Regions from separate parts of the Homo sapiens genome. Here region 1 is linked to region 2. The links come from fine-mapping of genetic effects on gene expression. A gene starts in region 2. The other region holds a variant in brackets. All regions are shown on one strand. Distances are from middle to middle. Region 1 overlaps IRAK2 (interleukin 1 receptor associated kinase 2). Region 2 holds the start of IRAK2 (interleukin 1 receptor associated kinase 2).

Region 1 (15,792 bases), 62 kb before region 2:
CAGAGGAAAGGGGAAGGGGCCTATAGAGAAGGGGGAATAAAGCCGATTCACAGAGAGTTCATCGAGTTCAGTTAACATCCACGGGTTTGGTCCTGCGCCCTGAGGCCCTGCAATACCCGTCCTCGGGCTCCGCACTATCCATCCCTACACCGCCCTTTGGCTGATGGGAGCTCTAGGAGGTTCTGCGGCTTGCAAGCAAGCACAACCCTGGTTTGTGCACCAGGCCTCTGCGAAGGGGCCGTCCCCGATGAGGTGGACCCACGCGTGGCCCAGGCAGCGAGGCCGCTGCGGGCGAGGCTCACCTCCTGCAGGCTGGTGTTACGCCTCCGCAGGCACAGGCAGGCAGCCGTGGCCAGGGCCTCGGCGCAGTCCTCCGGAAGCCTCCCTGCGCCCTTCTCCAGGTACTTCTGGCAGATCTCCTTTGCCATCACGTTCTCCACGCCCGTCTTCCTGGAGCAGAGCGAGGCGGTGCTGCTTGGAATATCACTGAGGAGTAAGTCCTTCTGTGGGAAGAAGGGTAGAAACGCCCTTGCGTGAGCTGCAGAGCTGCGAGAGCCAACGCACGCGCCCCACTCACCTCCAGAGCTGCAAAAAATGCTCAGAAAACCGACCGGACATCGTAAGAATAAATGCAAGGATTCCAGAAAGAAGTAAAACCCCCAAGAAATGGAGAAGGATTCGATTTCCTACATGCACAGGGCACTCCATAGTGAACTCATGCCACAAACGTGGGGCCTTAATTTTTCTAGGCCTCGGTTGGTTCATCAGGAAAATGGGAACAACAAAAATACCTACACCAGGGCCGGGCGCAGTGGCTCAAGCCTGTAATCTTAGCACTTTGGGAGGCAGAAGCGAGTGGATCACTTGAGGTCAGGAGTTCGAGCCAGCCTGGCCAACAGGGCGAAACCCCGTCTCTACTAGAAATATAAAAATTAGCTGGGCTTGGTAGTGCACGCCTGTAATCACAGCTACTAGGGCGGCTGAGGCAGAGGAATTGCTTGAACCTATGGTGGGGGAGGTGGGGGGCGGAGGCTGCAATGAGCTGAGATCACGCCACTGCACTCCAGCCTAGGTGACAGCGAGATTCTGTCTCAAAAAAATAATAAAATACCTACACCTAGGACTAACACAACCATTCAATGAAACAGTGCACCTAAAGCACAGAGAGTGACATCTGACACGGAACATTCAATAGTCTTTTAGTGATAATAACTAATAGTAATAATAGCTACCATTTATATGGCACTTACTACATGATAAGCACTTAATAATTTAATCTTATTAACTACATGGACAATCTCTTATGATACAAACATTTCAAATGTAGGATTCTGACCTATATACATAACAGGAGAGCCACTATAAAGAAAATATTATGTCTATACTTCTTATACATTTTGTATTTACATATATTTTATATTTTGTACCACATAAAATGCAGCAATCTGAACTATGCATACAATAGAACATATGCTATATAATAATTTTATACAAATATGTAAGCATATTTAATATAAATTATATTGTATATTTCATGAGTAATATGGTATATATGATTAGCATATATGAATGTTACAAACATACTAAATATTGTAAAAACATGTATTGTAGGCCAGGTGCGGTGCCTCATGCCTGTAATCCCAGCACTTTGCGAGGCCGAGACTGGCAGATCACTCGAGGTCAGGAGTTCGAGACCAGCCTGGCTGACACGGTGAAACCTCGTCGCTACTAAAAAATACAAAAAATTAGCCGGGCATGGCGGTGCGTGCCTATAGTCCCAGGTACTCGGGAGGCTGAGGTAGGAGAATTGCTTGAACTGGGGAGGGAGAGGCTTCAGTGAGCCAAGATTGCGCCACTGCATTCCAGCCTGGGCGACAGAGTGAGACTCCGTCTCAAAATATAAATAAGAAATAAAAATAAAAATAGGCCGGGCACAGTGATATAATCACAGCTCACTACAGTCTCAACCTCCTCGATTCAATCGATCCTCCCACCTCAGCCTCCCAAGTAGCTGGGACTATAGGCACATGCTACTGTACTTGGCTAATTTTTAAATTTTTTGTAGAGATGGAGTCTCATTATGTTGCCCAGGCTGGTCTTGAACTCCTGGGCTCAACTAATCCTCCTGTCTTGGCATCTCAAAGTGCTCAGATTATAGGTGTGAGCCACTGCACCCAGCCTAAATGTTTATTTTTTTTTTAAAGTGTACTAGTGTTTAAAGCTGATAATCAAGAACAGTAGAAGTGTATTATTTTCTTCTTTTCTAGAGGCAGGGTCTCACAATTTGCCCCAAATGGAAACCTGCCATCATTGCTATGTATCTTGATGCAAAGACTATGACGATAATCAAAAAAACTACAGAAGACACCTAGTGTTTAAACAGGGGTTGGGGGACTGAGAACACGCGATGAAAGGATGTCGAGGGAACTTCACCATGGAGGAGTCGGCAGCTCCACCTGAAACCACTGATCAATCTTAGCACTAAAACCTTAACACACTGATCGGTCTTAGCACTAAAAGTAGGACAACAGGCTACGCCCCGTGTAGTGAAGCAATGGGAGGCTCACAGCGCCTCCAGGAAGTGTTCTTGACAAAGGCAATGACCATGACTCTAAACAAGTCACAAGTGCTAACTGCCAAATATAGGAAATATGAGGAATAGAGAAACAAGGGAAGGAGACCACAGGATGTAATGAGCAAAACCCAGAATGTGAGACAGTCTGTCTACATAGGGCAAATGACCTAGTCTATGCAAAAATCCAACGACATCCAAAATGAAAAAGGGCATTGCGGGAGAGGTTGTGAGAGAATAAGAGTCTTTTTGTTGTTGTTGTTGAGACGGAGTCTCGCTCTGTCGCCCAGGCTGTAGTGCAGTGGCACGATCTCGGCTCACTGCAAGCTCCGCCTCCTGGGTTCATGCCATTCTCCTGCCTCAGCCTCCCGAGTAGCTGGGACTACAGGCACCCGCCACCATGCCCGGCTAATTTTTTTGTATTTTTAGTAGAGACGGGGTTTCACCATGTTAGCCAGGATGGTCTCGATCTCCTGACCTTGTGATCCGCCTGCCTCAGCCTCCCAAAGTGCTGGGATTACAGGCTTGAGCCACCGTGCCCGGCCAAGAATAAGAGTCTTAAGAAACATAACCATGCCCGGGCGTGGTGGTTCACACCTGTAATGTCAGCACTTTGGGAGGTTGAGGCAGGCGAATGCTTAAGCCCAGGAGCTCGAAACTCGCCTGGGCAACAAAGTGACATCCCATCTCCACATAAAATTTTTTTTTAAAAATGAAAAAAACAAACATAACCAAAGTAATATATGGACATTTTTGGGGTCTAGTTTCAAACAAACCACCCTTAAAAAGCAACTTTTGGCTGGGCACGGTGGCTCACACCTGTAATCCCAACACTTTGGGAGGCCAAGGCAGGAGGATCACTTGGGCTCAGGAGTTCGAGACCAGCCTGGGCAACATGGCAAAACCCCATCTCTATTAAAAATACAAAAATTATCTGGGCCATGGTGGCACACACCTGTGATCCCAGCTACATGGGAAGCTGAGGCAGGAGAATTGCTTGAACCTGGGAGACAGAGGTTGTGGTAAGCCAAAAGCACACCACTGTACTCCAGCCTGGGCCACAGAGGGAGACTCCATTTCAAAAAAAAATTAAAATTAAACATAAGTGGTTAAAATTTGGGGACAAAAGTTTACCTTTCATTTCTACTCTCCAAAGGTAACTCCTGCTAATAGTTTGGATTATATTATTTTCTGCTATACAGCTATAATTATTTTGGTTTTATATTTACTTATATAATAATTATAACAGTATCCTAAAAGCTGTTAAAATAATAGCAATATCAGCCTGGGCAACGTAACAAGACCCCATCTCTACAAATAACAAATTAAAAATTAGCTGGGCGTGAGGGCACATGCCTGTGGTCCCAGGTACTTGGGAGGCCGCCGAGGCAGGTGGATCACTTGAGGTCAGGAGTTCAAGACCAGCCTGGCCAACATGGTGAAACCCTGTCTCTATTAAAAATACAAAAATTAGCTGGGCATGTTGGTCCATGCCTGTAATCCCAGCTACTTGGGAGACTGAGGCAGGAGAATCAATTGAAGCCAGGAGGCAGAGGCTGCAGTGAGCGGAGATTGCACCACTGTACTCCAGCCTGGGCGACAGAGCAAGACTCTGTCTCAAAATAAAAATAAATAAATAAAATAAAAATAAAAATTAGCTAGGAGTGGCGGCACGTGCCTGTGGTCCCAATTACTTGGGAGGCTAAAGCAGGGGATCACTTGAGGCCAGGGGTACAAGGTTACAGTGAGCCATGATTGCACCACTACATACTAGCCAGGGTGGCAGAGACCTTATCTCAAATAATAATGATAATACTAATAGTTAACATATATTGTTTATTATGTTCTAGTTACTATTTTAGGCATCTCACATATTATTTAACCTTCAATAAACCTGTCAGATGCCAGGCACAGTGGCTCATGCCTATAATCCCAGCTACCCGGGAGGCTAAGGTGGGAGGATCCCTTGAGCCCAGGAGTTCGAGGTGACAGTGAGCTATGATCATGCCACTGCACTCCTCCAGCCTTCGTGACAAAGAAGATAGGAGATAGGAGACCCTATCTCCAAAAATGATAACAAACAAACATACCTTGTCGGTGGGGGGGGGTACTACTATTATCCTCAATTTATAGAGAAGAAAATATGTGATACAATGTTTTCATTCATTCATCCATCTATTTTTAGCAAAAATGTGATCATACTATATACTATTCTGAATTTGCTTTGTTCACTTGGAGATATGTCCCTGTCAGAACATACATGTCTTTTTCAATTTACTTTTTTATTTTTTTGAGACAGAGTCTCACTCTGTTGCCCAGGCTGGAGTGCTGTGGCACAATCTCGACTCACTGTACTCTGCCTCCCAGGTTCAAGCGATTCTCCTGCTTCAGCCTCCTGAGTAGCTGGGATTACAGGCACTCGCCACCACACAGGGCTAATTTTGTGTTTTTAGTAGAGACGGGGTTTCACCATGTTGCCCAGGCTGGTCTTGAACTCCTGAACTCAAGTGATCCACCCACCTCAGCCTCCCAAAGTGCCGCGATTACAGCCGTGAGCCACTGTGCCCGGCCTCTTTTTCATTTTTTTAAAATAAGAATGTTTGTGTTGGCTTTATTCAGAATTGCCAAAACCTGGAAATAACCCAAATGTCCAGCAACTGGTAAATGGATAAACAGTCATCTATCCATACAATGGAATACTCTTCAGCAATGAAAAGGAATGAATTACTGACACGTCAACAACATGGATGAATCTAAGCACCATGCTACATGAAGGGGGACAGAAACAAATGGGTGCATCTGCCATGGGCCCATTGATATGACCCTCTAAAGAAGATAGAGCTATGTGGACAGAAATTAGATGAGTAATTGCCAGGACCTGTAAGTGGAGGGAATTTTCTGGGGTGACAAAAATATTCCGTATCTTGATTGTGGTGGTGGTTACATGACTGTATACATTTGTCAAAACTCATACAGGCTGGGCGCCATGGCTCACACCTGTAATCCTCACAATTTGGGAGGCCAAGATGGGAAGATCGCTTGAGCCCAGGCATTCGAGGCTGCAGTGAGCTACAATCATGCCACTGCACTCTGGCCTGGGTGACAGGGCAAGACCCCTCCCTATCTCTAAATCAAATTAAATTAAATTTGGCCAGGCGCAGTGGCTCACTCCTGTAATCCCAACACTTTGGGAGGTCAAGGTGGGCAGATCACCTGAGTGATGTCAGGAGTTCAAGACCAGCCTGGCCAACATGGCAAAACCCTGTCACTACTAAAAAAAATACAAAAATTAGCCGGGTGTGGTGATGCGCACCTGTAGTCCCAGCTACTCAGGAGGCTGAGGCAGGAGAATCTCTTGAACCCGGGGGGTGGAGGTTGCAGTGAGCCAAGATCACGCCCACTGCACTCCAGCCTGGGCAACAGAGCGAGACTCTGTCTCGAAAAAAAAAAAAATGCCACTACAAATATCCTTGTTCATCTGCCTCTCCTCACATGTGTGCATGTTTCTCTAGGCACAAATGGAACTGCCGTGTCAGAGGGTACTCATATTTTCAATTTAGGTGGAAACCACCAAATGCCCTCAGGAAACACTGTGGCAACTAACACTTTCCCAAGCCTGGAGGAGGCCTGCTTCCTCCTACCCTGGGCCACAGGAAATCAGCAAGCTTTCCTCCCTGACTCAAATCTTGATTAACCATTGGATTGCACCTACCACAACAGAACATGATAAGAGACCATACAAGAGTCTAGAATAAGAGAAAGAAACTACATTTTAAAAAATTGTTATTTTCCACATTTTTAGAAATCATTAGCAAAAAAATAATTCTAGACAACTTCCTGTCAGTGCCTCAAAAGCCTCCTTCCACTGTGACACTTGTCCGGGGAGCCCCAGAGGACTGCTGGGAAATCCATCTCAAGAAAATAGTCAGGAGATGAGAAACTGCCCCCAAACAGCCCCAAACCACATCTGAGCTGCCCAGACAGACCTCTCTGCAGCATATGGGATTGACTGCCCAAAAGGGGTGGAACTCACAGAGTTCATCAAAGGAACATGTCGTGACTTTCTGCATGGAGTAGCGAGGCCTTCAGCCTCCCTACCCCAGAGCCCAGGGGATGCTTCTGGGGCCCAGTCACCAGAAATAAATAAATAAATAAAATAATAATCTGTCTGTTCCAATGGCCTCAATACCCAGTAGGAAAAGGTGCCCCCTCTCAAACTGATGAGGAAGACTAGAGTTTGGATGAGATTTGAAACTCTGCAAAAGCCTTGGGTTCAATTTAAACCCCACTTCCACCACTGGTCTCACTGAGGGGCGTGAGACAAGTCACTTCAGCTTGCCCTCAGTTTTCTCAGCTGTAAATGGGAATGATAATACTGAATTCGTATGGTTGGACTGTCACAAGAAACAAGCAGGAGACTGCTGTGGTTAAGAACTCAAGATCCTGTAATCCCAGCACTTTGGGAGGCCGAGGCGGGCGGATCACGAGGTCAGGAGATTGAGACCATCCTGGCTAACACAGTGAAACCCCATCTCTACTAAAAATACAAAAAAATTAGCCAGGTGTGGTGGTGGGCGCCTGTAGTCCCAGCTGCTCGGGAGGCTGAGGCAGAAGAATGGCATGAACCCGGGAGGTGGAGCTTGTAGTGAGCCGAGATTGCACCACTGCACTGCAGCCTGGGCGACAGAGCAAGACTCCGTCTCAAAAACAAAAACAAAAAAAAAACTCATGATGTCGGCTCAGGGAGATCTGACTCAGAATTCCAGCTCTGACACTTGGTAATTCCAACTGAGATCCTAGGCCAAACTCAGAGCCAGCTTTCCTCATCTGCAGATGAATATAATGACTCTATCATGGAAAAATTGAGATGATTTAGGTAGATAATGTATGGAAAGTATTTAACACAAAGTCAGGCTAGGTTGTTATATTTTTATTCTTTTTTGAGAGAGGGTCTCACTCTGTCACCCAGGCTGGAGTGCAGTGGTGCAATCTTGGCTCACCGCAACCTCTGTCTCCTGGGTTCAAGCGATTCTCCTGCCTCAGCCTCCCAAGTAGCTGGGATTACAGGTGTGTGCCACTACGCTTGGCTAATTTTTGTATTTTTAGTAGAGACAGGGTTTCGCCATGTTGCCCAGGCTGGTCTCGAACTCCCAGCCTCAAGTGATCCGCCCGCCTTGGCCTCCTCCAAAGTGCTGGGATTAGAGGTGTGAGCCACCACACCCAGCCAGGTTGTTATATTTTTTAAATGACTGTGTATATCAGATCTTTGGCCTACAAAATGGAAATTGTTTTTATTATAGAAACTTGTTTAAAAGGGCTGAAATTAACTTTTATCAATTTGAGGAAAATCCCTAATGAATTGCCTGATATATAGAGAAGTGCTTTCTCTTTTATACAAGTGCTTTCTATAAACATTCCAAAATCTTTTTTTTTTTTTTTTTTT[TG/G]AGATGGAGTCTCGCTCTGTCACCCAGGCTGGAGTGCAGTGGCATAATCTTGGTTCACTGCAACCTCTGCCTCCCAGGTTCAAGTGATTCTCCTGCCTCAGCCTCCCGAGTAGCTGGGATTACAGGCACATGCGACCACACCTGGATAATGTTGGGGGTTTTTTGTAAGTTTTTTCTTTTCTTTTTTTTTAATAGAGACAGGGTTTCACCATGTTGGCCAGGCTGGTCTTGAACTCCTGGTCTCAAATGATCCACCCACATCAGTCTCCCAAAGGCTGTGATCACAGGCATGAGCCACCGCACCAAGCCCCAGATGCTATTATCATGAAAAAGCAATGGTTGGCTGGCAGGTGGGGATGGGAGGTTAAAGCTGCTTTGTGGGGATGCAAATGCAACCTTGTACCGGGCCTCATTTGCATGTGTAAAACTAGCTAGAATTGAGGTCGTTGCCCTCTCTACAGAGCTGTGAGGCCCAAATATACCTCCCAGCCAGATGTGACAAGTTCCCTTACCAGGTAAACCGGGCTTCGGTTGTTATCCATTGCAGGGATGCCCGTGAGGACCTCGGCCAACACCTGGAGAGAACAGAACGTGAGTTAGCATGGTTCAGACGCTCGTGCACACAGCCAGGCAGCAGATTCTGTCTTCTCTTCTCAGTTCTGAGCTCCAGGTGCAGCTCTGCCATTGCCAGCAGACACACCTGCCCAAAATCTGGAACATGGGAATATCACTAAACACCTCCTCCAATTAAAGATGCCACCAAGCTGCCAGTGGAAGGTTGTAATTAATTGATAGCCAGGCAGAGAAGATGGTTTTCAAAAATTCATGTGTGTGTGTGTTTATATGTATTACCATAAGATATATATAGGTATAGATAAATATAGATACACACACACGTATATATACACTATTTTTTAAAGATTGTTTCATTTAAAAATCCTTCAGCTGGCTGGGCACGGTGGATCATGCCTGTAATCCCAGCACTTTGGGAGGCTGAGGTGGGCGGATCACGTGGTCAGGAGATCGAGACCATCCTGGCTAACACAGCGAAACCCCGTCTCTACTAAAGATACAAAAAAATGAGCCAGGCGCGGTGGCGGGTGCCTGTAGTCCCAGGTGCTTGGGAGGCTGAGGCAGGAGAATGGCGTGAACCTGGGAGGTGGATCTTGCAGTGAACTGAGATCGCACCACTGCACTCCAGCCTGGGCGACAGAGCAAGACTCCGTCTCAAAAAAAAAAAAAAACACCAAAAAACCTTCAGCTATGGCAAGCAGGCATTGCTCTGTGAATCTCAGGGAAGGAAAGACTCTGCATGCAGGCAGGTATCTATTCTAGACAAATCTTGCAGCATCCATAGCATGTTTCACTCACAGGCCTTTACTAACATTATTTATTCATTAGCGCATCCACTCGCAGAAGGAGCACAACCCTGTATACGTGTAAGTCACCACAAAATTGGCAAACCATGATATATGTCTTCATAAACAGGAAACTGCTTTGAACAGGGTTTCTCAGTAGAGACAATGCTATGATGGCTAAGGGCTCTACAGTCAGGCCTGAGTTCAAATTCTGACTCTGTTCCTTATATGCTCAGGTGATCTTTAGGCAAGTAACTAAAACCTGAGCCTCAGTGTCCTCATCTGTTAAATGGGGACTAGCAGTTGTGAATATTAAAGGTGTGAAGACCCCACACTTAGTGTGGAACCTCTCTCCCACAGCATCTCTCAAAGCAAGTCAGAATAGGGTCACATTTATAGCCAAGAATCCCTCCAAGCCTGGAGGAAGGAAAGGATAAAGGTTTTAAACCACCCAGGATTAATAACAGACTGGCAGTGACCAGAAAAGGGCAGCAGAGGGCATCACTGCTGCAAGTGGGACAGGAGCCAATTGAAAAGGGACTCCTGACAGGTCCCTGCCAGGAAGGGACAGAACAAGGGGAAATGAATAAACAAAGACTTCCTGTGCCCCTTTCACAGAGCAGGCTCTGAGCCAAGTCCTTTATAGAGGTCACTGAGCACTCACCAAAAAACACTGAGCAATGCACTGTGATCCCCACAGGAGGAATCAAAGTTCAAAAGCGTTATCAGTCAACCAGAGGCAGGGCTGAGCAAAAGGGTGGCAGGAGCCAGGAGGCATTCAATGAATGAATGGATGGATGGGTGGTAGATGGATGGATGGATGGATGGATGGATGGATGGATGGATGGATGGATGGATGGGTATGTGGGTGGGAGGGTGGGTGCATGGGTGGATGAATAGATGGATAGGTGGGAGGGTGAATGGATGGATGAGGAAGTCATCTGTGACGCTAACACACCAGTTAGAAGGTCAAGAGTAAACAGATATCAGAAGGAGGGTGTAAAGGTGGGAATAACAATAACCACAGTCATCATAATATTCTTGGTAGGTGCAGGGTGCAGGGTGCCATGCTCACCTGCTTATATACATTATCCCATTCATCTCCATGTGTATCGTTAGCCCCATCTTACAGAAGGCTTAACTGAGGCCCAGAGACAGAAGTGCTAGGTGTAAGTCACACAGCTGAAAGTAACTGAGCCGGGCCTAGGGGTTCTATCCCCCTGGTTCTTTTTTTTCTTTTTTTTTTTTTTTGAGACAGAATCTTGCTCTGTTGCCCAGGCTGGAGTGCAATGGCGCGATCTCGGCTTACTGCAACCTCTGCCTCCCAGGTTCAAGTGATTCTCCTGACTCAGCCTCCCAGGTAGCTGCGATTACAGGCACATGCCACCACACTCAGCTAATTTTTGTATTTTTAGTAGAGCCGGGGTTTCACCATGTTGGCCAGGTTGGTCTTGAACTCCTGACCTCAGGTGATCTGCCCACATCGGCCTCCCAAAGTACTGAGATTTTAGGCATGTGCCACCACTCCCTGCCCATCCCCCTGGTTCTTAAAGGAGAAGGAGCCTGGACTAGCCCTGCTGAGCTTCACTGAACAACTTGCAGTGGGGCTGAGGGAGGCAGAGGAACCAGCTGGGAGACACGGAGGTGCAGAATCTGGGGTTCTGGCTGAGGGCAGAGGTGACTCAGGGCCACGGTTCTGGTAGCAGAGGTAGACAGACAGGAGACTGTGGTCAGAGAGAGGAAGTACAGAGTTCAAGGCTAGAGAAGAAAAGAGGGTGAGGCCCAAGGGGCAGCTGTATGCACTTGGCTGAAGCCAACCTGACTGTTACTCTTCTCAGCCAGCATTTCCCAGACTGGGTTCCATGGAACACTGACAAGGACAGATATTCTGAGAACACAAGGTTCCATAGTCAAATGAGCTTGGGAAACACTGCATACCCCTCTCTGGTGAATTCACAAGTACCAGATTAAAGGCTCACTACCATTCAACCAGCTTGAATTAATCTTGTGGTAAAGAAACCTGCTTGACTTTGCCTAATGCAATATTTCCAAGCCTGTCAGGGCACAAACCCTTTTAACACATCAATCCTAGAGGTCCGAAGGAACTGGAGTTCTACAGAAATATACTTTGGAGACTGCTACATGCAGACCATGAGCTCCTGAGGGGAGGGACTGTGTTTTTGTTACATTCATATTCCTAGTGCCTGGCACGACATAATGGCAGACAAGGATGGTGGTGGTGGTAGGGTGGGATGCTGGGTGGGTCAGTGGTCGCTGAATGGATGGGCAGCTAAAGGGTAGATGGATGATCGGACAGCGATGAACAAATAAGGACAAATAGACAACTGGATGGACAAGTGGATGGCTGGATGGGAATTACGGAAGTCAGGAGAGGATATCTGGAGCCTACTAGAACCTGGACACTCATGAGTGGTTTTCCTTCAAGGGCTGGCAAATTTCTTCTGTAACACGCCACACAGTAAATATGTGAGCTTTTGGGGAGCATGTTCAGTCTCTATCACATATTCTTTGTGTTTAAAAATATAATCCTTTATAAATGTAAAACTACCCTTAGCTCACAGACCATACAAAATACGCCACAGGCCAAAGTGGCCTGTGGGCCACAGTTTGTCAGCCCCTGTTGTACTTTGATGGAACCTGTCTGTGTGCCTCTACCGTATCCTGTGATTACAAAGGAGCCGTGGGAAGGACAAATCAAGGTGGGCCCCACTCTACGCAGAGCAGGACACTCTTACTATTCCACAGCTGAAGATGTCCACTCGCTTTGTCAGCTGCCCCACCCGGATGAAATCCTCTGGCAGATACGCGGCTGACGTCCGGAGCAGGTGAGTCTTCATCATGGTGTATTTTGACCTTTTGTTGACAGGACACAGATGAGCCATTGGGTGAGCAAGTTTGGGGGTGAGATTTTGGTCCAGCAAGACATTAGAGCTGTGGAAATGAAAGGAGAGGGAACCTTCTCATTTTGAGCTGGATAACAACAAGTTGCCATGGAGACCCTTTGGGGAGACAATATAGCAACCTCACCTCCTGCAAGTTGAGGTCTCTAAAGACCCTCAGCATGGAGCTTCTGAGCCAGCCCTGACTGGGGAAGAGAGGGCATCAGGAGCACACTCCCTCCAGCAAATGGAGATGGAGTTCAGACTTAGTCTTGCTGCCCCAGGAATGTGGCCAAAGTGCAGCCTCCCTGATCCCCACAGATGCCAACCCTGATCAGCCTCAGCTTGCCACGCCTACAGGCTGTGCAGACTCAGTCTCTTCCACAACTGTTCCAACCCCCAGCTCTGGCCTGGCTGACTCAGGTCTAAGTGGCCAGCATCCTTTGTGACTAAACCTGCCCAGATCATGTAAAAAAAGAAAGAAAAAAAAATTCCCTCTTGGCCGGGCACAGTGGCTCACGCCTGTAATCCCAGCACTTTGGGAGGCCGAGATGGGCAGATCACCTGAGGTCAGGAGTTCAAGACCAGCCTGGCCAGCATGCCGAAACTCCATCTCTACTAAAAATACAAAAATTAACCAGCCGTGGTGGTGTGCGCCTGTAGTCCCAGCTACTCAGGAGGCTGAGGCAGGAGAATTGCTTGAACCCGGAAGCAGAGGTGCACTCCAGCCTGGGCAACAGAGTGGTACACTGTCTCAAAAAAAATCATTTGATCTAGTCATCTAACCCCCAGGAGCAAACACTGAGAACATACTCCAAAATGGGAAAAAGCTAAGCCACATGTGTACAGATATATAGTGCAGGCCAGGTGCAGTGACTCATGCCTGTAATCCCAACACTTTGTGAGGCCGAGACAGGAGGATCACCTGAGCCCAGGAGTTTGAGACCAGCATGGGCAGCATGGCAAGACCTCATCTCTACTAAAACAAACAAATTCAGCACGGCATGGTGGTGCGTGCCTGTGGTCCCAGCTACTTGGGAGGCTAAGGTGGGAAGCTGCGGTGAGCTGAGATTGCGCCACTGTACTCCAGCCTGGGCAAAAGAGCAAGGCCCTGTCTCAAAAAAAAATTTTTTTTGGCCAGGCGCGGTGGCTCACACCTGTAATCCCAGCACTTTGGGAGGCCAAGGTGGGTGGATCACGAGGTCAGGAGATCGAGACCATCATGGCTAACACAGTGAAACCCTATCTCTACTAAAAATACAAAAAGTTAGCCGGGCATGGTGGCAGGCGCCTGTAGTCCCAGCTACTCTGGAGGCTGAGGCAGGAGAATGGCGTGAACCTGGGAGGCGGAGCTTGCAGTGAACAGAGATTGTGCCACTGCACTCCAGCCTGGGCCACAGAGCGCGACTCCATCTCAAAAAAAAAAAAAAAAAAAAAAATTTTTTTTTTTGGTATTTTTAGTAGAGACGAGGTTTCACCGTGTTAGCCAGGATGGTCTCGATCTCTTGACCTCGTGATCTGCCCGCCTTGGCCACCCAAAGTGCTGGGATTACAGGCGTGAGCCACCGCGCCCGGCCAAAAAAAAAACTTTTTTAGCGTGTGTGTGTGTGCACGCCCGCAAATGCACGGGTGTGTGTGCCAGGAGTGGTTAAGTAAATTATGGGCAAATTCCTTCACGGGAAGACTAAGACACTAAAAAACATGACGGTATACAATGTAGCGAAATGTTTACTATGTTTAAATGAAGGGGTAAAAAACAGGATGTGAATTGGTACCCAGGTGCTACCTCAGGACTAAGGATTTGTATAGGCAGGAAGTGAAAAAAGAAACAAAACCTAGAGGCCAGCTGATGAGTCATGGGGTAGGTTAGTGGTGACCTCTCTCACCCTTTCATTTCCTTGCCTGCTATTAGAATTATTGATGCAATCAAATAAAAATTAGGGGAGAGAGCCGGGGTGGTGGCTCTCACCTGTAATCCCAGCACTATAGGAGACCAAGGCGGGTGGATCACCTGAGGTCAGGAGTTCGACACTAGCCTGGCCAACATGGTGAAAGCCTATCTACTAAAAATACAAAAATTAGCTGGGTGTGGTGGCGAGCACCTGTAATCCCAGCTACTCAGGAGGCTAAGGCAGGAGAATCGCTTGAACCAGGGAGGTGGAGGTTGCAGTGAGCTGAGATCGCACCACTGCATTTCAGCCTGGGTGACAAGCGTGAAACTCCGTCTCAAAAAACAAAAAAAAAATTGGGGGAGAGAAAAGAGGAAAGGACTTCCACAAGTCAAATGGAAAGAGAACTTTGGGGAAATACGAGTTCTGTGTCTCTGGAGCCAGTTCTGCCAGATATTCTGGTATCTTCGGAATCCCTCCCTATCCTAACCGTCTCCAGATGGGGACCTCTCCCTCTCATGTGCATGGCACTGACATGCAGGGGTGCAGGCCTAACCTGCAGGAGCCTTCCAGACAAGATGCTAACACCAACAGCTACACAAGAAGGGGACAGGTCTCAGAAAAGACACTGAACGAGGAGCTCAAAATCCCAGGGGGTTGGCAGACATGGCCCAAAGTTCGAGGATGAGGTCCAGGCCAGCTGCTGAGTGGACAGTGCGACGCAGCAAGGTGTGGAGGGCTTGTTGGGAAAACAGCAGCTCAGAAAGACAAATGTGACAGGTAGGCAATTCATCCTGAGAGCAATTGGACTTGGAGCACAGCCCGGAAACACTCATTTTTGAGGGCATAACAGAGAAAAAGACATCCAGGGGAGGGCAGAGGAGAGGAGGTAGGAAGAGAAAAACAAAGAGGACAGGGGTGAGTGGCGGAGCGGGAGGTGAGCCAGGAATAGGCACCAGTTCCACCCTTGCAGCCCAGGCCCCAGCAGGGTCCAGCCCACCTCTCTCACCTCTTGACGTTGCTGTGGATGATCTCCAGACCATGCAGGTACTCGACGGCACAGAGCAGCCCTGAGCAGATGCTGACACGCTGGGGCCAGGGGAGGGGGTCCGAGCCACCCTAAGAGAAAGAAAAGCAGGAGGACAAATAGTCACAATGTACCTTTTTAAAGTCCTGATGGCAGCCAGGTGCGGTGGCTCACACCTGTAATCCCAGCACACTGGGAGGCCCAGGCAGGCAGATCACTAGTTCAGGAGATCGAGACCATCCTGGCTAACACGGTGAAACCCCATCTCTACTAAAAATACAAAAAATTAGCCGGTCCTGGTGGCGGCTGCCTGTAGTCCCAGCTATTTGGGAGGCTGAGGCAGGAGAATGGCGTGAACCCAGGAGGCAGAGCTTGCAGTAAGCCGAGATTGCACCACTGCACTGCAGCCTGGGTGACAGAGCGAGACTCCATCTCAAAAAAAAACAAAAACAAAAACAAAAAAACGAAGTCCTGATGGCAGGGTCCCAGGCTCCTGATCCTCCTCCCACCCTTCATGTCCTCTGTCACAGGGCTCAGCATGATACTGTGAGTTTTTTCATTGTTTTGTGTTTGCTGGTTTTGAGACAGGTCTTGCTCTGTCA
Region 2 (15,792 bases):
ATGGACAGGTAATAGCTGGTCATCGTAGAATATTTGGGAAACAAGAAAATGAAAGTCCCCATGATTATCCCACTTGGAGGACTCCAAGGACACCACCAGTTACATTTTGGTGTCTAATCTTCCAGACTTTTTCTACAGATATGAAAACATGTGCGAAAGTCAGCAGGACAGTAGTGGTGGTTCAGAGGCCAGATATTGGGATTCGGGGCCTGGGTTCAAATCCTGTCTCTGCTGCTTACTTGCTGTGTTTTTGGGGAAGGTGTTCATCTCCCCCTGAGCCTCAGTTTCCTCATCTGTCAAACAAGGATAACAGCAGCACCTGCCTCCGAGATTGTTGCAAGGATTAGATGAGTTCTATGTACAGAAGCACTCAGAACAGTGCTTAACACACAATAAACATGATATAAGTATTAGCTGTAAGTGTTAAACTATCTACATTCTATGAAAACCTGTTTTTCATAGAGTTTGGCCAGGTGCGGTGGCTCACGCCTGTAATCCCAGCACTTTGGGAGGCCAAGGCAAGCGGATAACGAGGTCAGGAGTTTGAGACCAGCCTGGCCGACATGATGAAACCCCGTCTCTACTTTTTTTTTTTTTTTTTTTTTTTTGAGACAGAGTCTCGCTCTGTTGCCCAGGCTGGAGTGCAGTGGCGCGATCTTGGCTCACCACAACCTCCACCTCCTGGGTTCACACAATTCTCCTACCTCAGCCTCCCGAGTAGCTGGGACTACAGGCATGTGCCACCATGCCCAGCTAATTTTTGTATTTTTGGTAGAGACGGGGTTTCACTATGTTGGCCAGGCTGGGCTCAAACTCCTGACCTCGTGATCCACCCACCTCGGCCTCCCAAAGTGCTGGGATTACAGGCATGAGCCACCGCGCCCGGCCTTTTTTTTTTTTTTTTTTTTGAGTCGGAGTTTTACTCTTGTTGCCCAGGCTGGAGTGCAATGGCACATGTCAGCTCACTGCAACCTCCACCTCCCAGGTTCAAGCAATTCTCCTGCCTCAGCCTCCCGAATAGCTGGGATTACAGGCGAGTGCCATCACACCTGGCTAATTTTTTGTTTGTTTGTTTTTTTGAGACGGAGTCTCGCTCTGTCGCCCAGGCTGGAGTGCAGTGGTGCGATCTCTGCTCACTGCAAGCTCCACCTCCCAGGTTCACACCATTCTCCTGCCTCAGCCTCCTGAGTAGCTAGGACTACAGGCGCCTGCCACCATGCCCGGCTAATTTTTTTTTTTAGTAGAAACGGGGTTTCACTGTGTTAGCCAGGATGGTCTCAATCTCCTGACCTCATGATCCACCCACCTCAGCCTCCCAAAGAGCTAGGATTACAGGCATGAGCCACCGCACCTGGCCAATTTTCATATTTTTAGTAGGGACAGAGTTTCACCATGTTGGCCAGGCTGGTTTCGAACTCCTGACCTCGTGGTCCTCCCACCTTGGCCTCCCAAAGTGCTGAGATTACAGCCGTGAGCCACTACGCCCAGCCCATCTCTACTGAAAATGCAAAAACTAGCAGAGTGTGGTGGCGGGCGCCTGTAGTCCCAGCTACTCTGGAGGCTGAGGCAGGAGAATCACTTGAACCCAGGAGGCCGAGGTTGCAGTGAGCTGAGATTGCATCATTGGACTCCAGCCTGGGCAACAGAGTGAGACTCCGTCTCAAAAAAAAAAAAAAGGCTGGGTGCAGTGGCTCACGCCTGTAATCCAAACACTTTGGGAGGCTGAGGCGGGCGGATCACGAGGCTGGTCTCAAACTCTTGGCTTCAAGAAATTTTCCCACCTAGGCCTCCCAAAGTGTTGAAATTAGAGGCGTGAGCCACTGCACCTGGCCTGAAAATGTTTTTATCCCTGATGATTAACAGTACAGGGACTATCACTCTTGAGTTCCTGAATCCTGCAGGAGTTCACCCGAGGCAGTAGAAAACCTTGCCTGTCTTCAAAGTCCTCCACAGCAGGGATGGCACAGCCTCCTGAAATGACCCATCTTAGAATCGAATGCCCACACCCCTCCCTGGGTGGGGGATGAGGAAAGCCCTAACTTGACCCTTTACAATAAGCTGAGTCTCCTAAGCCTCTCAGCAACACTGTGAGGGTGCTTCATGGATGAGGAAACTAAAGGCTCAGAGAGAGATAGTCACCTGCCTGATGTCACACAGCTGGGCAGGGCAAAGCAGGGCTGTGCACAAAGGCTGGCACACGCATGAGTGAACGAGACGGGGAACGGCCACACACAGAAGAGCCCCTGCGCCGAGCCCCTCTGCACACACCTGGGGCTGAAGCTGTAGGAAACCCTTTTTACACAGGCTCAGGCAAAGCCCAACAGAGGCAGCTGCCATCACGGAGACAAGAACTAGGCGTGGCCAGATTATCTGCCAACAAGTGTCGGATCTGAAAGAGCGTGGCTGTCTGTGGCTGCGGGATCTTCTGAATCACTTTAGCGTTCTCACTACACTCTCCCAGTATCACCATCAGCTCTGAGGGACTGTCTTCTTTCTAAAATGACCCACAGGAAGCCAAGAATTTTTAGGACTGAAGGGTCAATCACAGTCACTCGTTCATTCAGCTGAAGAGGGAACTGGAGCACTGGGACTGGGCGAGGAGCAGTGGGCCGGAGGCACCGCTGGCTCTGATCCAGTGTAGGAAGTGGGCTGACCAAAGGCTCCAGGCCAGCTCCAATGGGTAAGAGTGGGCAGCCCGCATCCTCACCACACCAAGGCCTGGCAGCTCATCATTCATTCTGGCACCTGCCCTCTAGCCAGGCACTGTCCCAGGCTCTGGGAATACAGCAGTGAAAAACTAGACAGGTAAGGCCCCTGCCCGCACGGGGCTTCCATTCCATAGGGAGAGACAGGTGGAAAAAATTCAGGAACGAGGGGACATCAAAGGCTGTGAAGCGGAATGAGGGAAATGAAACACGGTGATGGGCTAGAGAGGAACAGGGGCAGGAAAGTCCTCTTGATTTCAAAGAGGTGCCACAGGAGCTTACCTGAAGGACTGTGACAGACAGAATAATACCCTTGGAAAACATCCACATCCTAAGCCCCGAGACCTGTGAATATGGTACCTTACATAGCAAAAGGGACTTTGCAGGTTAGATTAAATCAAGGATTCTGAGATGAGATTATCCTGGATTCTCTGGGTCTGGCCAAGGTAATTACCAGGGTCCCTGTAAGGGGGAGGCCAGAACATCAGATTCAGAGATGAGGTGATGGTAGAAGCAGAAGTCACAGAGACAGATGTGATGATACACACCCATGGCCTTGATGATGGAGGAAGGGGCCATAAGCCACAGGATGCTGCAGGCCTCAGGAAGCCAGTCAAGGCCAGGAGACCGACTCCTCCCTAGAGCCACCCTGAGTTAGGACTTCTGACCTCCAGAATGCTGAGATAATAAACTTGAGGTGTTACAGGCCACCAACTTTGTAGTGTTGTGGGAAGTCAGGGGCCCCGAACAGGACCGGCTGAAGCCACGGCAGAAGAATACAACTTGTGAAGATTTCATGGACATTTATCAGTTCCCAAAATTAATACTTTTATAATTTCTTACGTCTGTCTTTACTGCAATCTCTGAACATAAATTGTGAAGATTTTATGGACATTTATACTCTTATAATTTCCTATGCCTGTCTTTAATCTCTTAATCCCATCATTTTCATAAGCTGAGGATGTATGTCACCTCAGGACCCTGTGATGATTGCATTAACTGTATAAATTGTTTGTAAAACGTGTGTTTGAAAAATATGAAATCTGATTGTAAAACGTGGGTGTTTAAACAATATGAAATCAGGGCACCCTGAAAAAGAACAGAATAACAGTGATGTTCAGGGAACAAGGGAAGATAACCATAAGGTCTGACTGCCTGTGGGGTCGGGCAGAATAGAGCCATATTTTTCTTCTCACAGAGAGCCTATAGATGGACGTGTGAGTAGGAGAAATATCGCTGAATTCTTTTCCCAGCAAGGAATATTAATAATTGATAACCCTGGGGAAGGAACGCATTCCCGGGGTAGGTCTATAAATGGCCACTCTGGGGGTGTCTGTCTGATGCAGTTGAGATAAGGGATGAAATATGCCCTGGTCTCCTGCAGTGCCCTCAGGCTTACTAGGATTGGGAAATTCCAGCCTGGTGAATTCTAGTCAGACGGGTTGTCTGCTCTCCAACCCTGTTTCCTGTTAAGATGTTTATCAAGACAATGCGTGCCCAGTGGGACATGGACCTTCACCAGTAATTCTAATTTCACCTTTGCCTTGTGATCTTTTATTGCCCTTTGAAGAATGTGATCTCTGGGACCTACTCCCTATTCGTACACCCCTCCCCTTTTGAAATCCCTAATAAAAACTCGCTGGTTTTGTGGCTCGGGGTCACCATCACGGTCCTACCAATGTGTAACAGCACCCCCAGAGGCCTAGATGTAAAATTTCTCTCTTTGTACTCTTTATTTCTCAGACCGGCCGACACTTAGGGAAAATAGAAAAGAACCTACATTGAAATACTGCGGGCTGGTTCCCCTGATATTGTAGTAATCTATAACTGCAACAGGAGGAAACTAATAGACTAGAAAGCTAGCCCCAGGTAACACAGGGGGAAGAACGTCCCAGGCAGAGGGAACAGCACCTGCAAAGACCCTGTGTCTGGCCCAGGGAGGTCAGTGTGGCTGGAGCAGGGGAGTGACAGTGGGTGTGGAAGAAGAGGAGGTCAGAGAGGCCAGCACTGGGCAGATGTGTCAGAGTCAACATGCCTGGCAAGGTGTTCAGATCATATCCATCCCAGTGGGGAGCCTCGCAGAGGTATTCTCCAAAGAAGATGTGCAAATGGCCAACAAGCACAGGAAAAGATGCTCCACAGCATTAGTCATTAGGGAAATGCAAATCAAACCACAGTAAGATGCCACTTCACACTGGCTCAGGTGGCTACCATCAAAAAAGCAACAATAAGGCCGGACATGGTGCTCACACCTGTAATCCCAGCACTTTGGGAGGCCGAGGCGGGCAGATCACCTGAGGTTAGGAGTTTGAGACCAGCCTGGCCAACACGGTGAAACCCTGTCTCTACTGAAGATACAAAAATTAGTCAGGCACGGTGGTGCATGCCTGTAATCCCAGCTACTTGGGAGGCTGAGGCACAAGAATCGCTTGAACCCAGGAGGCTAAGGTTGCAGCGAGCCGAGATCATGCCACTGCACTCCAGCCTCAGCGACAGAGCGAGACTCTGTCTCAAAAAAAAAAAAATTAAAAAAAGAAAAAAATAACACATGTTGACAAGGATGTGGAGAAATGGTCATCCTCATACACTGGTGGTTCAGCCACTTTAGAAAACATCTGGTAGCTCCTCAAATAGTTAAACATAAAGCCAGATGCAGTGGCTCACACCTGTAATCCCAGCAATTTGGGAAGGTGAGATGGGCAGATCGCTTGAGCTCCAGAGTTCAAGATCAGCCTGAGTAACATGGTGAAACCTGTCTCTACAAAAAATACAAAAGTTAGCTGGGTGCAGCAGTGCACACCTGTAGTCCAGCTACTCAGGAGACAGGAAGATCGCTTGAGCCCAGGAAGTTGGGGCTGCGGTGAGCTACATTTGCACCACTGCACAAAATCTTGTATGTGAGTGTTCACAGCAGCACTATTCACAATGGCCCAAAAGTGAAAAGAACCCAATGCCCAACAACTGATAAATGAATGAAATGTAGTATATCCATACCATGGAACATTATCCTACAATAAAAAGAAACTGGCTGGGCGCGGTGGCTCACGCCTGTAATCCCAGCACTTTGGGAAGCCGAGGTAGGTGGATTACACGGTCAGGAGATCAAGACCATCCTGGCTAACACAGTGAAACCCCATCTCTACTAAAAATACAAAAAAATTAGCCGGGCATGGTGGCAGGCACCTGTAGTCCAAGCTGCTAGGGAGGCTGAAGCAGGAGAATGGCATGAACCCAGGAGGTGGAGCTTGCAGTGAGCCGAGATTGCGCCACTGCACTCCAGCCTGGGTGACAAAGCGAGACTCCGTCTCAAAAAAAAAAAAAAGAAACTAAGTATTGACGCATGCTACAACATGGATGAACCTCATGTTAGTTGAAACAAGTCAGTCACAGAGCACTATATATTATATGATTCCATTTATATGAAATGTCCAAAATAGGCAATGTCTAAAACTCAGGAAAATGGAAGGAGGGGATTGGAAGTTAACGGGTACAGAGTTTCTTCTTCGGGTGATTAAAATGTTCTAAGATTGATTGTGAAGATGGATACACAGCCCTGTGAATATACTAAATACCACTAAATTGTACTCCTGAAACAGGTGGATTGTATGGTATGTGAATATCTCAGTAAAGCTTTATTTTTTTTTTAAGTCATAGGTATGCCTTCTAATTGAATTTCCTAGAAACAGAAGTTGTTCTGGCATTTGTAACTGAGGGCTGGGCCAATGTGGAAAAAATGAGAGGGAGTCTCACACAAAGTTTGTTCACTGCCCAGGAAACATTCAAAGTAGTGAAGCCAGGTCCAGGAGCAGTGGCTCACGCCTGTAATCCCAGCACTTTGGGAGGCCAAAGCGGCCAAATCACATGAGGTCAGGAGTTCGAGACCAGCCTGGCCAACATGGCGAAACCCCATCTCTACTAAAAACATAAAAATTAGTGGGCGTGGTGGCACATGCCTGTAATCCCAGCTACTCGGGAGGCTGAGGCAAGAGAATCACTTGAATCCAAGAGGCGGAAGCTGCAGTGAGCCGAGATCTCGCCACTGCATTCCAGCCTGGGCCACAGAATGAGACTGTCTCAAAAAAATAAAAATGAAAAGAGAATATTACAACTTATGACTTATAAGAATATTTAACACTTAGGTGTCAGTGCTTTTATACAGTATTTTCATTCCTCACAACTTTATGAAGAAGCTATAATTATCATCTCCAGTTTACATACAGATTCAGAAGCTGAGGCTCAGAGAGGTTAACAAACTGGCCCAAAGTCATACAGCAAGAGCCTGGAATGCAGATCTCCACCTGGAAAGCAGAGACAACAGGCAAGCGGCCTCCCCGCAGAGTCCATGGCCCTCTCCGCCAGTCATCCGTCAGGCACCAACAAACAAAACATATGGAGGCTGTCTGAGTGCCTTCCCACGGAATTATCTAGAACTGTGCACCTTGCAATAGAGTGAAAGTAAGTGCTTGTGCTTAGGCCCCATTATACACACTGAATCTATTAGGACACATCTGATCTCAAAACAGGTTGATAGTCATAAATACTGTGATCAAAACAATGTACACTAAAAGTAAATATCTGATTTTAAAACTATAATGGTAAAGTACATTTAATCACAAATATGATAAATAGGCTGGGCACAGTGGCTCACGCCTGTAATCCCAGCACTTTGGGAGGCCGAAGCAGGTGGATCGCCTGAGATCAAGAGTTCCGGAGGCCGGGCGCGGTGGCTCATGCCTGTAATCCCAGCACTTTGGGAGGCCCAGGGTGGGCGGATCACAAGGTCAGGAGATCCAGACCATCCTGGCTAACACGGTGAAACCCCGTCTCTACTAAGAATACAAAGTTAGCCGGGCGTGGTGGCGGGCGCCTGTAGTCCCAGCTACTCAGAAGGCTGAGGCAGGAGAATGGCGTGAACCCGGGAGGCGGAGCTTGCAACGAGCCTAGATCGCGCCACTGCACTCCAGCCTGGGCGACAGAGTGAGACTCCGTCTTAAAAAAAAAAAAAAAAAAAAAAAAAAATAGTTCAAGACCAGTCTGGCCAACATGGTGAAACCCGGTCTCTACTGAAAATACAAAAAATTAGCCAGGGTGGTAGCGGGCGCCTGTAATCCCAGCTACTCGGGAGGCCGAGGCAGGAAAATCGCTTGAATCCCAGAGGTGGAGGTTGCAGTGAGCCGAGACCGTGCCATTGCACTCCAGCCTGGGCAACAACAGCGAAACTCCGTTTCAATATATATATATATGTTAAATCATAGATCCTTCTAATATACACTAAAACTAAACACACCACACACACACACACACACACCCCCCCAAGAAGTGACAGCACCGTGGGTCCCTACAGGGTCGAGGCTCGCACTTTGCAGGCTGTTGTGGGCTGGATGAGAGGCCACCTGGGGACGTCACCGAGCCAGCAGCGCTGACAGGAGGGCCCCCGTACCCACCGTTCTCTGGACTCAGAGCGCAGTGGCGGCGGCCCCTGCTCGTCGACAGACGTCCTCAGAGACCACGCGGCACCTTCAGGTGACAGGCCGAGGTCCGCGGCGGACCCGGTCCAGGAGGCTCAGCTCGCACGCCCTCGGATCGGGACCCGCTGAACCCGGGTGCCCGAGGGAGCTTGGCGGCCGCTCCAGGCGGGATCGCTGGGGGCTCCGGTCGCCCTGGTCCCCTCCCCTCCCCGGGCCGCACTCACCGAACTCCATCCAGTCCCACTCGCTGAGCGCGTCCATGTTGCGGCACAGGTCGTCCAGCACCCAGGAGGGCAGCTGGTAGATGTAGCAGGCCATGGCACGCTACGGGGCCGGCTCCGGCGCGGGACGACTGGGTCGGACACTGCGGGCTGCGGCTTCTCTAGCCAGGGGCGGACCGGCGGGGAAGTGGGCGGGGCGGGAGGGCACCAGCGTCCCCAGCGGCCACGGGCGGCACGACGGCCCCGCCGGCTCCACCCCAGCGCCGGCCAGAGAATCGGAACTGCGAGGGGAAACTGAGGCCCTGGTGGGAGAAGGCCACACGGGAATTCTGCCGCAGCGGCAGGAGGCCTTCTGACCCCACTTCCATCGGCACTACACCATGCATCATGCGCTCATCAAATACTCCATTAATTACCTACTGTATGCCAGGCAACTCCCTAGGTGTTGGTAATACCTGAATAAGAAACCCTACAGCCGGGCGCGGTGGATCACTCCTGTAATCCCAGTACTTTGGGAGGCCGAGGCGGACGGATCACGAGGTCAGGAGTTCGAGACTAGCCTGGCCAATATGGTGAAACCCCGTCACTACTAAAAATACAAAAATTAGCCGGGCACGGTGGCGCACGCCTGTAGTCCCAGCTACCTGGGAGGCTGAGGCAGAAGAATCGCTTGAACCCTGGAGGCGGAGGTTGCAGTAAGCCCAGATTGTGCCCTTGTACTCCAGCCTGGGTGAAGAGTGAGGCTCTGTCTCAAAAAAAAAAAAAAAAAAAAAAAAAAGCCTACAAAAGCCCTTGCTTTCATAAGACTTACAATCTAGGTGTGGAGAGAAAGACTAACAATAAATAATAAATATAGTATGTTACAGAGTGTCTTAAAGGTAATAAGCACTATTGCAAAAAAAAAAAAAAAGGAAAAAAAGTTGGTTAAAGGGAATCAGGAATTCAGATTGAGCATGGGGAATATTCTATTAAATAGGGTAGTCAGGTAGACTTTACTATAGTAGCTAATATGTATCGTGCAGCTACTATGTGCCAGGCACTGTTGTAGGTGCTGGGAATACCTCTGAAGAGAAGGACAAAATCCTTGTCCTGGAGGGAGACAGACAACAAGCAATAAAAATAGGCAGATAAGCTATGTTGGAGAATGAAAGTAGAAGCCTGGGCAACATAGGAAGATCTTATCTCTACAAAAAACTTTTTTTTTTTGAGACGGAGTCTTGCTCTGTAGCCCAGGCTGGAGTGCAGTGGCGCAATCTTGGCTCACTGCAGCCTCTGCCTCCCAGGTCCCGGTTCAAGCAATTCTCCTGCCTCAGTCTCCCGAGTAGCTGGGATTACAGGCACGCGCCACCACGCCCAGCTAATTTTTGTATTTTTAGTAGAGACAGGGTTTCACTGTGTTGGCCAGGATGGTCTTGAACTCCTGACCTCGTGATCCGCCTGCCTCGGCCTCCCAAAGTGCTAGGATTACAGGCATGAGCCACCACGCCTGGCCTCTACAAAAAATTTTAAAATGAGCCAAGCATGGTAGTGTACACCTATAGTCCCAGCTACTCAGGAGGCTAAGGTGGTAGGATCTCTTGAACCCAGGAGTTTGAGGCTGCAGTGAGCTATGACTGCACTGCAGCCTGAGTGACAGAATGAGACCCTGTCTCTGAAAAAAAAAAAAAAAAAAAGAAAGAAAAGAAAGAATAAAAGTAGAGGGTGGTAAAAGGGAGTGCAAGTGGCCAATTGCATTATCTTAGATGATACTATTACTGGGAAAAAAGCAGAGTATGGTGCAGGGGACTGCAGGACAAACTGGATTATTAAATAGGGTATAAGGGGCTGGGTGCGGCGGCTCCCACCTATAACCCCAGCACTTTGGGAGGCAGAGGCAGGCAGATCGCTTGAGCCCAGGAATTCGAGACCAGCCTGGGAAACAGAGCAAGACCCTGTCTCTACAAAAATTAGCCAGGCATGGTGGCATGTGCCTGTAGTCCCAGGTACTTGGGAGGCTAAGGTAGGGGGATCACTTGAGCCCAGGAGGTGGAGATTGCAGTGAGCCAAGATTGCACCACTGCACTCCAGCCTGGGTGAGAGTGAGACCCTGTCTCTAAATAAACAAAGAGGGTACAAGGAACAGAATTTATAGTGTGTGTATACATATATATATATATATATATATATATATATATATATAAAATACACACACACATATATAAAATAGCTAGTATTTATTGAGCACTTACTATGTGTAGCCTTCACCTGGGTTACTTTACTTACTCCTTACAATGACCCTCTGAGGTAGGTATGGTTATAGCCCCATTCTACAAATAAGGAAACTAAGGCACAGAGAGGTTAAATAATATGGCTAAAATCATTTGAACCTAAGTATTCTGACCCCAGGCTCTCCATCACCACTGGCTAAAGTATATTGTAGATACAGATACATTTATCTGTATCTACAATGTACTTTGCAAAAATGATCTTATGTCATTCTTACAAGCCTATACTATAGATATTATTATCCCCATTTTACACAGAAGTAAATAGATTCCAAGAGGTTAGGCGAGGTCACGAAGGGCAGATAAGTAACTAGAGTAGGTACCACTGTATAGCTGTGGCCGTCAGCTATGGAGTAGCGCTGCAAAAGGAGGAAGCTGAAATCAAAGTGAGAAGTCCTAGGGCCAAGTTGCAGTTCTGCCACCAACAGGCTTTGTGACTCTGGACAACTCATTTCATTCGTCAAGCCTTGTTTCCAGCATCTGTAAAGTGGGCCTGCTCCTTCCTACTGCTTAGAGTTGTGAGGGGAGTGGAATAAATCAAATTATGTAGCCTATATAGAACACCTACTACAGGGCTTTCCTCGCACAGAGAATGTGCCCAAAAAATGGTAGCTGTCATTAGTGGTCTTGAAAAGGCACCCACTGGCCTTGGAGTCCTATCAAGTTTGGAGACCTGGTTCAGCCACTCTCCGGCTCTTAGTCCTTTGAGCCAGTTCTGTTTTCCCTTTTGGAAACTGGATCTCCTGCTGCAGCCACTTGGAAGGATTGTTATGAAGCCTAAATGGACTCCAAAACGCTCAAGATCAACTGTGAAGTGCTGAGCCCAGTAAAGGATTACTATTATGTCCTCCTTGATGTTGAAAGTGGGACATATTTCAGTGTTCTGAGACTACTTTTCAAGTGAAGTCCTGTGTTTTCAGCAGTGGCTGAAGGTGGACTTGGGAACTGTAATGATTGTTTGCCATAGGCTGGGTGGAGAAGCATCTCCATCCCAGGCACACGGGGGTAAAAGAGAATAAAGATCCTCTTCTTTTTCTCCTTTTCTCTTTTTGCAGAGTCCCCTACCTGCTTCTCCTTCTCTTCCGCAAGCAGCGTGTGTGTAGAGCTCCTCCCTCAGTGCCACAGGGCCTCTTCCCTGGGGTGAGGCTTTAAGACCACGGAAGTTTCACATTCAGCCTTGGTCAATCCTGGAAGGCAGAGGAGCCCCCACTGCTCTCTCTGCTGCATCCTCAGGCCCTTCCCGCAATTCCTTCTCACCCCAGCCTCAGGGCTTGGGATCTGTGTCCTAGGATTCTGTCTTCCAGAGAAGCTTGAGTCATTTTGGGCCTGAGCAGGTCATCACAGGGACACATCTCAGTTACCACTCTTTAGAATAAGTTCTTCAAAGTAAGGTCTTTGCTATTACTAATGGTTGCCCTTCACCTACCAACTCACCTAGCAGGCATTTAGCATACATTATCTGTAATCCATACAACCCTGCAAAGGTTTATTGTTTCTGTTTTACAGATGAAGAAACTGAGGCTGAAGTCAATTGTAACTGGGCCAAGTTGGCCAAGTGACAGTGAGGTAGGGGGCAGCACTCGACTCGAAAGGAATGGCTGGGACATCGGACCAAATTGAGGACTAGCTAAAACAGGTGTGGTGGGAAGTACCTCGCATAAGACACTGCCACCAGTGTACCTTGTCAGTTTACCATTGCCATGGCGACTCCAAGAAGTCACCGCCCCTTTCTAGAATGTTCTGCATAAACTGCCCCTTAATTTGCATATAATTAAAAGTGTGTATAAATGTGACTGTAGAACTGCCTCTGAGCCACTACTCTGGGCACACTGCCTATGGAGTAGCCCTACCCTGCAAGGAGCAGTACCTCTGCTGCGGCTGCACACTGCTATTTCAATAAAAGGTGCTATTTAACACCACTGGCTGGCCCTGGAATTCCTTTCTGGGTGAAGCTAAGAACCCTCCCAGGCTAAACCCCAATTTGGGGGCTTGCCTGTCCCGCATCAACAGGATGCAACTCAAGTCTGACCCAAAGCAAATGCTCTTTCTGCTGTGTTATACTGCCTCACCACAAGAAATTTCCTCTGATCTTGCAGTTAATTTCTTCCTCTGGCTATTTTCCATGACCAACACCCACCAGGATCAGTTAGAAACAGTTATTGAGGCTGAATGTAATTAATTACACACTTACGTCATTTTGAGCTGTTCAAGTTTAATTCCCTTGAAATTATAGTCAGTGGTTTGCAACCCTGGCTGCACAGTAGAAACATCTGGGGTGCTTTTAAAAAGTATAAATGCCTAGCCCTACCTCCAGGGAGACAGATTCAATTATTCTGGAGTGGGGCTCAGGCACTACTGTTTTTTAAAGCTTCCCAGATAATTCTAATATGTGCTGGCACAGTTGAGAACCAGTCATATCAGAAAGCTGGGGCAGAGGCCAAGCATGGTGGCTCATGCCTGCAATCCCAGCACTTTGGGAGACCGAGGTGGGTGGATCACTTGAGGTCAGGAGTTCGAGACCAGCCCAACCAACACGGCGGAACCCCGTTTCTACTAAAAATACAAAAAAATTCGCTGGGCGTGATGGCACGCACCTGTAATCCCAGCTACTTGGGAGGCTGAGGCAGGAGAATCATTTGAACCCGGGAGGTGGAGACTGCACTGAGCCAAGATCATACCACTGCACTCCAGACTGGGGGACACAGTGAGACTCCATATCAAAAAAAAAAAAAAAAAAAAAAAAAAAGCTGGAGCAGGAGGGAAGACTGATGAAAGGAGAATAATAAAGCTTCTCTATGCACTTTGCATATATTTTTCTTTTTTTTTCTCTCTTTTTGAGACGGAGTTTTGCTCTTGTTGCCCAGGCTGGAGTGCACTGGTGTGATCTTGGCTAACCGCAACCCCTGCCTCCTGGGTTCAAGCAATTCTCCTGCCTCAGCCTCCTGAGTAGCTGGGGTTACAGGCATGTGCCACCACACCCAGCTAATTTTGTATTTTGAGTAGATACGAGGTTTCTCCATGTTGGTCAGGCTGGTCTCAAACTCCTGACCTCAGGTGATCCACCCACCTCGGCCTCCCAAAGTGCTGGGATTACAGGCATGAGCCACCGCGCCCGGCTATATTTTTTTTTAACAAAAATATCTTTATTGGTTTCTCTGATAGCATGTGATATTTGTCAAAGACAGAAAGAAAGAGAAAACAAACACCTTCCCATAACCTCATCCCTGAGGAATCACCATTATTGTTTGGAGTATATACTCCTTTTACATGTTTTTAGTCCTATACAAAATGATTTTTTTTTTTTTTTGAGAAGGAGTCTCACTCTGTCACCAGGCTGGAGTGCAGTGGCGAAATCTCGGCTCACTGCAACCTCCGCCTACCGGGTTCAAGTGATTCTCCTGCCTTAGCCTCCCAGGTAGCTGGGACTACAGGCGCATGCCACCACACCTGGCTAGTTTTTTGTATTTTTAGTAGAGACGGGGTTTCACCACGTTGGCCAGGATGGTCTTGATCTCTTGACCTCGTGATCTGCCCACCTCGGACTTCCGAAGTGCTGAGATTACAGGCGTGAACCACCGTGACTGGCCAATTTTTTAAACATATTTTCTTTTTTGCAGACACTATGGTGAAAAAAAAATTTTTTTAACATTTAATTTTCTGTTTTTTTTTCAATTAATAGCTTTTCCTGTCATTATATGAGCATAGTACTATTTCCCTTTTAATGGCTTATTTAGGAACACCATACTATATGTGCCCAAACTCCTATCAGTATACTTTTATTTCCAGTATTATGCTATTCTAAATAATACTGCAGCAAACTTCATATACATACATCTATTCACACTTGTTTTTTCTTTCTTAAGGTAAATTCCTAAAACTAGATTTTCTGGAGCAAAGATGAACATCTAAAATTGTGATGGGCTGGGTGCCATGGCTCATTCCTGTAATCCAAACACTTTGGAAGGCCAAGGAGAGAGGACTGCCTGAGCCCAGGAGCCCAGCCTGGACAACATAGTGAGACCCCATCTCTGTTAAAAAATGGCTGCGTGTAGTGGCTCACACCTGTAATCCCAGCATTTTGGGAGGCCGAGGCAGGCGAATCACCTGAGATCAGGAGTTCAAGACCAGCCTGACCAACATGGAGAAATCCTATCTCTACTAAAAATACAAAATTAGCTGGGCGTGGTGGCGCATGCCTGTAATCCCAGCTACTCGGGAGGCTGAGGTAGGAGAATCACTTGAACCCAGAGGCGGAGGTTGCAGTGAGCCAAGATCCTGCCATTGTACTCCAGCTTGGGCGACAAGAGCAACACTCTGTCTCAAAAAAAAAGAAAAGGAGGCCGGGCGCGGTGGCTCACGCCTGTAATCCCAGCACTTTGGGAGGCAGAGGCGGGCGGATCACGAGGTCAGGAGATCGAGACCATCCTGGCTAACACGATGAAACCCCGTCTCTACTAAAAAATACAAAAAAATTAGCCGGGCGTGGTGGCGGGCGCCTGTAGTCCCAGCTACTCGGGAGGCTGAAGCAGGAGAATGGCGTGAATCCAGGAGGTGGGGCTTGCAGTGAGCCCAGATAGCGCCACTGCACTCCAGCCTGGGTGACAAAGTGAGACGCTGTCTCAAAAAAAAAAAAAAAAAGAAAGAAAGAAAGAAAAAAAAAAAGAAAAAAGGCAAAAAAAAGCACAAACAAAAAAACAGAAACAAACAAAAAAAATTTTAAGAAAAACAAACATAAGGCCAGGTGTGGTGGTGCATGCCTATCTATAATCTCAGCACTTTGGGAGGCCAAGGCGGGAGGACTGCCTGAGCCCAGGTGTTCAAGAGCAGCCTGGGCAACATGACAAGACCCTGTCTCTATTATAATTTAAAAAATAAAAATTTCAGCCAGGTGTGGTGGCTCATGCCTGTAATCCCAGCACTTTGTGAGGCCAAGGCGAGCAGATCACTTGAAGTCAGGAGTTCGAGACCAGCCGGCCAACATGGTGAAACCCTGTCTCTACGAAAAATATTAAAAATTAGACAGGCATGGTGGCGTGCACCTGTAATCCCAGCTACTCAGGAGGCTGAGGCAGGAGAATTGCTTGAACCCAGGAGGTGGAGGTTGCAGTGAGCTAACGCCACTGCACTCCAGCCT

Evidence for each region. PIP is the estimated chance that this variant, and not a neighbour inherited with it, causes the effect.
Region 1: its variant is fine-mapped to the expression of IRAK2 in monocytes after LPS (Quach 2016, PIP 0.95).

The regions. Positions count from the first base shown.
Region 1 is chr3:10,219,170-10,234,961 of GRCh38, reverse strand. It overlaps IRAK2 (interleukin 1 receptor associated kinase 2), which reads right to left. Exons shown (of 13, transcript NM_001570.4): 8 at 15,173-15,282; 9 at 12,131-12,326; 10 at 8,529-8,591; 11 at 303-503. Among named protein-coding and RNA genes, the nearest start is that of TATDN2, 21 kb to the left of the region's middle. RefSeq lists enhancers at 252-854, 8,651-8,700, 8,876-9,658 and a silencer at 8,243-8,537. The variant TG/G (reference allele first, on the strand shown) is at 8,016.
Region 2 is chr3:10,157,654-10,173,445 of GRCh38, reverse strand. It overlaps IRAK2 (interleukin 1 receptor associated kinase 2), which reads right to left and starts at 8,527. Exons shown (of 13, transcript NM_001570.4): 1 at 8,398-8,527. The coding sequence starts at 8,491. RefSeq lists an enhancer at 3,949-4,459 and silencers at 8,213-8,362, 8,563-8,692.